Homo sapiens: one gene and its partner. The protein of the gene in region 2 purifies or fractionates together with the protein of the main gene of each other region. This does not show direct contact. Each region holds a gene or a part of one and is shown on either strand. Other genes may lie near its edges.

Region 1 (4,074 bases), on a different chromosome or scaffold from region 2:
GTTGCTGAAGAGGAGCAGCCCATTATGAGAGGGCTCCGAGAACAACCTGCTAGGACTGCACTTTTCCTCCACCTCTGAGTTTGCCCGGAGGCTGCCATGCTGGCAGGAAATGCTGCTGACTAAAAGAAACGCTCCCTGTGTGTCCCAGCCAGTGCGAGGACAGAGGCCTTCATTTTCAGATAAAGTCATCACCATTGCTTCCCTGTCTCCTTCTTTCCCTCTTTGCTTTTCCCTCAGTTTATAAATATTCTCAAGCCTGTCTCTTATGTTTAAATGACAAAAGAGAACAAAACAAAACACTCTCCCTACTTCTTTCTCCTCTGGCTACTCGGTTATCTCGTTTCTTCCTTTCACTGCTAAATTGTTGGAAGGAACCTCCCATTCCCTCTCAGCCCACTGCAGTCTGGCTTCTGCCCTTTCCCTAAGAAACCCAAGTTACTCTCTGAAATCACTGTGACTCTTCTGTGGCCAGAGCCAGTGGACACTGCAGTCCTTTTCTCTGCTCTCTGCAGGGTTAGGTGCCATCTTTCATTCTCCTTTTGGAAAGGCATTTGCTTGAGCTTCCATGCCATGCCTTCCTTCTGGACTTCCTGTACTCCCTTGCCTGCCCCAGATCCACATCTCTGTCTGTCTGAAGCTTCAATTACCACATCAAATGCTGAGGGTCTTCCTGACTGTATACCAGTGTTTGGACTACCTTTTTAATGTCTTCGTTTGAATGTTTCACAGGAACTTCATACAGTTAAACTCATTGTCTCTCCACCCTGGCCTCAGTCCTAATCTTGTTTCTTCTATATTCATCATCTTTAGAGCCCTCAAGGGCAAAACCTGCTGGCCATCCTATACTTTCCTGTCTTTGTCCATCTCTCACATCTGTTTGGTCACCAAGTCCTAAATACTCCACCTCCTTGAGATCTTCTTTGATTTGACTCTGACTCTTCATGTCAGCCACCACTGGTTTAGTTCAGGCCCTTATCGATTCTTATTTGGATTATTGTAATAATTTCCTAACCAGGTTCCTTTTTTCCATTCTTGTTTCTGGCTGTAGTGTGCATTGCTACCAGAAAGATACTGCTATACCAAAATTCTTGATCACGTTGCTCCCAGGCTGAAATGCCTTTAGTAGCTCTCCCGTCACCCTCAAGACTTAATTTGAAGCACAGTGTTTAAGGTCTTTTGGGAATTGTCTCTTGCCTCCCTTTTCAGCCACATCTTGTAATTTCCAGTCTCAGGACAGACTCTCCAGCCAGTGGGAACCTTTTGCAGTTGCTGAAATGCCTCTTCTAGGCAAGATTTCCCTCTGCTTGGAACACCATTCCAAGACCCTTCCCTTCCATTTTTCATCTATGTAGCAAAGAGCTCTGTCTTTTCTTTTAAATATTGCCCTTATTGAAGTATAATATGCATGTGGAAAAGTGTACATATAAAAAATGTATATCTTGGTGCATGTTCATGAATTGAACACACCATGTAACCAGCACCCTGACTGGGCCTCTCTTCTCATACCCTGAACAAGTGATTTCTTGTCACACAAACAATCTCTGCCTCTAGAGCCCCCCTCCCCCCTTGCCCTTCAGGCTCTGTTGGGTCTTTCGCTCCCTGGCAGTTGTCACACTATCTGCAAATTGTATTTTCCTTGCCAGCCTGGCTCTAGACTGTTAAGTCTTCCTTGAGGACAGGGTCTCTCATCTCCCTACCCTGCATGTCATAATAGATATTTAATAAATGTTTTCTGGATGAAGTTCTGAGTTTTGGGGATAAATACTCCTTCCTCACCTTGTGGAGGAGGAACATTGCCTGACGTCTAAAAATTTGCCTCACTGGATCCTGAGGATTTGATCTTGCCCGTGGTTAATGATGGGGTTTATTTAGTTGCGTTTGGGCCAATCAGCTTAAAGGGCTCTGTAGAAATTAGCTCATTAATCCTCACAGATCAAGAGTAAGCACTTTGAGTGCGTCCACCTGCCTGTGTTGTGGAGGTAGGCAGGCAGAGGCCTGGCTCTCCTGAGGTCTTAGGACTGAGAGGTGGCCTTTCTGGCTGGATTAAAGGACCCAGAGCTCCCTGCCACAGTTCTGGCATCCGTAGACATTGTAGGGTGGAGTGGGGAAGTCCCACACTGCCCTTCAAAAGCTCTAGAGCTTTCTTTTCTTTTGTATATCAGTGATCTCTCTCTCTTGCTGTTCATGTATTTATATATAACACTCACCTTGAAGTTCTGTGGAGCCTCTTCCTGTGTAGGAATCAGGGCTGCTGGAGACGATCAGGGATGCAGGTGAAACACAGGAGCAGAATTGCAGAACAAGTGGCTTTCAAAGGTTGTTAGGATGGCAGGAGTTCTATTTTTATAACTTATAAGGGACTGACATGATAGGATGGCTGTGGTACCTGCTAAGACCATAGAACCGGGTCATTCTAATAGATGTTATAATTCCTTTACAGTGTACTTTTTGGGAAAGTTTTTTTTTCCTATTTAAATAAAATTCTCCATGTAATCATGTGAAGTCATACGTTTTCCTCTAGGATAGTTGTGTTTAGATTATACCAAAACAGCTCTTAGTTGAAGTGATTCAAGTGTTTCTTTTTTCCCTATCTGCCATCAATTGGCCAAGTTTTTGATACTAGACAAGAATTCAATATATTAATTAAAAAGTCATTTCAGACTTGGCTTAACTGAAAAGCAGAAGAGAAAAATCCTTTAGAGAATGGATTGGCATACTTTATTTCTAGAGTCGATTTAGATAAATACTTTGGAATCCGATGTGAGTAAATGATATGTTTCACATTTCTTCTCACTTGCCAAACAGTTATTTGAGAATAAACTCTGGCTTAGCTTTAAGAAACTTCTTGGACATTGAGGATTGAGATTAATTGACCTTTTAAACTGATTGTGTATTTTGATATATGGGAAAACATTTTAAGATAGAAATGGTAGAGACCTCTACATTCATATTATCCCTGACTTTATTTTCAAACTTCTTCCAGGTAAGTGGCATTTAGTATAACTCTCAGAAGCCTAGTATTGGGGGTGCTCATGTGATTCTTCCCTTAGGTAAAAAATATACATTTTATTGACATTTATGGGTTTAGGTTTCTAACTTTTAGTTACCACTGGAGCTATTTGTCAGAAAAAACTAGATGGAAAGTAGAGGTGGATGACTTTCTGCCCTGTGAATGATAGATCTTCATTCAGGGAGTATTTTGGAGCCAGTGACCTGTGACAGTTGTGAGACTTCTCATAATCATTCTGTGGATGGTTGGGGTCTTAGAAGAAGTAATGATTTTGTTTTGAACTGGTTGCATCAGTTTGAACCAGAGTTTGTACTAAGGGTATTCCAACTGCTTTATTTCCTACTCTGTTTAGTCTGGGGATTGAAAAAGGATTACATTTTGGGTAGGTTGGTGCCTATTGACCTATCCTGTGTAGCTTAGATTTTAATTTGAATCATCTGGTTCTCTTTCTTTCTCTCAGGCAATGTCACTATCTCTGTTTGTTTAATTATGGGGTGACTCAAGAAAGCAAAGGAAGAGGAGCAGCAGACGGGGTTTCCTGGGGAAGGAATGGCAGGTCATGGCTGGTTTTTATAAGTGAGTTCCTAAGTGAGAAGTGGTACAAGAATATAGAGAGAATTAGGAAATTTAATTTTAGAAGAGACCAAAGGAAAAAAAATCCATCCCAGCTGCTTTGTCTTGTAACTGAAAACTCTCTAATGGCCAAAGTTGAAGAAACTTGCCTATGGTCCCAAAGTCCTTAGAATCCCAGGCTCCAACCCTTCATGCTAAAAACTCTCAATAAATTAGGTATTGATGGGACGTATCTCAAAATAATAAGAGCTATCTATGACAGACCCACAGCCAATATCATACTGAATGGGCAAAAACTGGAAGCATTCCCTTTGAAAACTGGCACAAGACAGGGATGCACTCTCTCACCACTCCTATTCAACATAGTGTTGGAAGTTCTGGCCAGGGCAATCAGGCAGGAGAAGGAAATAAAGGGTATTCAGTTAGGAAAAGAGGAAGTCAAATTGTCCCTGTTTGCAGATGACATGACTGTGTATCTAGAAAACCCCATT
Region 2 (4,074 bases):
TCAGTTACACAGACCTCTGCTGCCAGTTTCCATGGATGAGGCCTTGCTGATGCTCCTTGGATAGGACCCGTGTGCAACTGTTTGTGGACTTGGCTTCTTGCTGTGGATAATTTGGACCCACTGTTGGGCTGGAAAAGCCTCATTTAACCCTGGGGAAAACTGGAACCTTCAGAAATTTAATGGAATACTAAGCCCAAGAACACATGGTCTGACCTTGAACCCTGGTTCTGATCTGCTTCTGAGTTATTCTATAGCCATCTCAGCCAACAGAACCGTCACGGGAATATTCTGTCTCTGTGTTGTCTCATATGATAGCCACTAGGCACACAGGGCCACTGGGCACTTGGGATGTGGCCAGTGGGACTGAGGAGCTGCGCTTGTTGTTTAAATGGAAGCTTAGATTACATAGCCATCGGTGGCTGGTGGCGGTGTGCTAGACGCTGCTGCTCTGGGCCCTGCTGACTTTTGTGACTTCATCTCTGATCTCATTCCCCTCTCCTGGCTTTCCCTTTCCCTCTGCCTTCACTCCCAGACCTCCTGTGCTTTTTGATTTTTGCATTTGCTGTTCTCTCTGCCGGCATCACTTTTTCCTCTGATCATTTTATGGTTTGCCCCTGTTCAACAGGAGGGCCTCAGATCAAGTGTGTGTCTTCAGAAAGATCTTCCCTATTCTACCTAATTGTGTCCCCAGCCCCATTCCAATTGCTCCTTATCTCTCTGAAGTTACGTTTGTGTGTTTTCTTGTCTACTGCCCTATCCCTGGATAAAAATCCCAGTTTCACCAGAGCAGGGATGCAGTCTGCCCTCTCCCACTCCATCTCTGTGCCTGGAACAGCGCCTGAGAGGCAGAAAGTGCTCAGTATGGTGCTTACAGTGTGTGAACATTCTGCAGGACAGCCCCCTCCTTCAGTGAGGAGGAAAGGCGGTCATGGCCCCAGTAACTTCTGCTGTGTGACAAAATAACATGAGCACAGCGGCCTAGAACAGCAAAGATTCGTATTTCTTCCAATTCTCTGGGTCTGGAATGTGAGCAGGACTCAGTTCCACATTGTGTCACTGAGGGTCACTCAGCTGGGGGCTAGGCTGGACAGGGTGGCCCAAGAAGGCCTCACTCACACAGCTGGGACTTTTGGGCTCTCCAAGAAACATCTCTATGCGGTTTGTCTGGGTTTTCTTACAGCATGGAGGTCTCAGGGCAAGTAGGCTGACTTTTTTTTTTTTTTTTTTTTTGACAGTGTCTTGCTCTGTTGCCCAGGCTGGAGTGCAGTGGTGTGATCTTGGCTCACTGCAACCTCCGCCTCCCAATCCTGGGTTCAAGCGATTCTCCTGCCTCAGCCTCCTGAGTAGCTGGGATTGCAGGTGCCTGCCACAATGCCCAGCTAATTTTTGTGTTTTTAGTAGAGATGGGATTTCACCATGTTGGCCAGGCTGATCTCAAACTCCTGACCTCAGGCCTCTGCCTCGGCCTCACAAAGTGCTGGGATTACAGGTGTGAACCACTGTCCCCAGCTGGCTTCTGAGAGAGGAAGCAGAGGCTGCCAGGCCCAGAACTGGCAGCACCATTTTTATCACCTTCTACCGGGCTAACTAAGCCATAGGGCGAGAGCCCAGATAAAAGGGGAGGGGAAACTGTCCACTTCCTGGTGGGTGGGCAGGATGTTCATACCAGCAGGAAGGGGTCTATGGACACGCTACACAGTCACTTCAACAGTGCTGTGGTAGTGCTTCTCAACTTTGATCATGCACATGGGCCATCTGGGGTCTAGTTAAGATGCAGATTTAGTAGGTCTGGAGTGGAGCCTGAGATTCTGCATTCCTAACAAACTCCAAGAGACGTCAAAGCTGCAGGCCCACAGGCTGCACGTGGAGTAGCAAGGCTGTATTAGAATGCATCCTATCAGGACTGAGCCTATGCTTAGGTTTGACATTGCAGGGCCCTCAATTCCACTTCTAGAGTGGACAGCACTTCTTTGGGTTAAGCATTACCCACTGTTGCTGAGGTCTACATGATCGGTCCCTTCTTCCCAGGCATCTGGGCTTGTGCCCACATAGGGTAACTGTCCCATCCTACCTCCCAAGCACTTCTCATGCATTGCTTTATCAGCCTTTAAGGCCTCTTCCTTCTTTAACATTTAATTATCATTGTGTCCCTTGTAAAATTGGTGGAATGGGTCTCTTTCAGTTAGGATTAGAAACTAAACTCAAACTAGTTAAAAGGCAAAGGATTGATTGGAGCACATATGGCTTCAGGACTGGCTGTATCTAGGCCCTCAAATGATGTTGTCAAGAAACTACTTGTCACCATCTCCAGTTCTGCATTGCCAGGATCGCTCTGACAGGATCCCCCACAAGTGGAAGGAGAGACGAACACTCACTTAGCAACCCCAGCAAGAAGGGGGCACCACTTCTTGCCTAATCTTTCTGGCAAAAGTGCCAGGATTCTGTCTGGCTGGCCCAGCTGAGGTCGCGTGTCCACAATGATGCAGTCACTGTGGCCAGGAGGATGTGTTACCTCATTGGCCAGGCCTGGTCATGTGTGTTGTTACCTCACTGGCCAGGCCTGGTCATGTGTGTTGTTACCTCACTGGCCAGGCCTGGTCATGTGTGTTGTTACCTCATTGGCGAGGCCTGGTCATGTGTGTCCCTGGAGCCAAGTGGGAGACTGGCCCCACCCAAGCCACATTGGATGAAAGCAGGAAGAGGTGATTCTCCATGTAAAATTGGAGAGAAGGGAGAGCAGTTAGAAAGCTAAAAAATTGTCCCAATTGATCATGAGAACAGGTGTTGAAGTCCTTGTGTGATGGCTGAGAAAACAGAGGGCGGGAGCCTCATAAATTCCAGAGGGCCCACAGCTAACCAGGCCTCCCAATCCCTAGCACAGACTCAGGGGCTGTCGAATTAAAGATCTTTAGCACCAGAAGAATCTTGAAAATTAGCCAACGCATGTTCCACAGAACACTGGTTCAAGGGAAGCTAACTGATGTTACTTAAAAGGCTGTCTGGTCTAGGAAAGGTAAAAGATAATGGGCTAGGCCAGGTCAGTAGTTCCCTAGCTTTACAGGACTTTTCAAAGCCGTAAATAGGCTGGTGTACATTGTGAATCCCTGAGAATGGGGGGAGGCCTAGGGACTATTGTTTGGAAAATTAGTAACCTAACTCTATTCCTCCCCATTTTATAGATGAAGCAACTAAGGCCAAGAAGGGAAAGTGATTTGGGCAAGGTTATGCAACTAGTTCATGCTGGGATTACCCCAGATGCTATGTTGAGGCATACTTCATGCTGTGCAGAAGCATCTCTTTGTACCTCAGGGCAGCCCTGTCCTCCTGGTTGTGTTCCTGCTGTCTGGAGTCTGTGTGTTTTCCTTTCTCCCACATATCCCTGCATAAGGGTTTGTGGGCTTCTATGGCACTGCTCCTGTGAGGGCCCATGGGCACCCAAAGTGCCCAACCCCTGCCTGGGACATGCCCCTCACTGCTGCATGCCTGAGGGAACTATTGAGAGGTGCAGAAAACCACATGGGTCTGTACTTAGGAAAACGCAGCCACCCAACTGGCAAGGTGACGGCATAGATGAGGTTGAAGGGGCTTGAAGGTTGGCCAAATCCGGAGAGTCAGCACAGACAGACACCAAGTGTGCCAGGCTGAAGGGTGAAGGTTCCTAGAGCCAAGTACACACTTTAAATCCAGGGAGAGATTGTGGGTCAGGGCTGGGGTGTGCTGACGTGAGGGTGATTGTTATAGCAACATTACCTTTGAGACCCTCATTCACCTGGGCACTTCATATGAGCTCATTCTAAGCCACTCAGTGACCCGGCTTGGGGATTATCATGACCCATATAGATCAAGAAGAAAAAAGTAGCTGTTGGTTAGTTGGCTGAACTCACAGGTATGAGCTTAACACGAAGGATTCAAGCTCTGGCTCTTCTCTTCGCCAAGTATATGATCTTGGGCATGTTACTAAACTGTCTAAGCCCCCATTTCCTCATCTGGCAAATGGGGCTCAGATATGTTCCTACATCATAGCTTTGTCGTGAGGATTAAATAAGATGTCTGTGAATTAGCAAGACACCTAGC

Evidence for each region. The genes of interacting proteins can lie anywhere in the genome.
Region 1: the proteins of BANF2 (region 2) and STK39 purify together in Homo sapiens (affinity purification with mass spectrometry; one large-scale study listed by BioGRID and IntAct). This does not show direct contact.

The regions. Positions count from the first base shown.
Region 1 is NC_000002.12:168,237,352-168,241,425, reverse strand, and holds part of STK39 (STE20/SPS1-related proline-alanine-rich protein kinase), read left to right. Parts: intron 1-4,074. UniProt on the Homo sapiens protein: Effector serine/threonine-protein kinase component of the WNK-SPAK/OSR1 kinase cascade, which is involved in various processes, such as ion transport, response to hypertonic stress and blood pressure.
Region 2 is NC_000020.11:17,702,532-17,706,605, forward strand, and holds part of BANF2 (barrier-to-autointegration factor-like protein), read left to right. Parts: intron 1-4,074. UniProt on the Homo sapiens protein: May play a role in BANF1 regulation and influence tissue-specific roles of BANF1.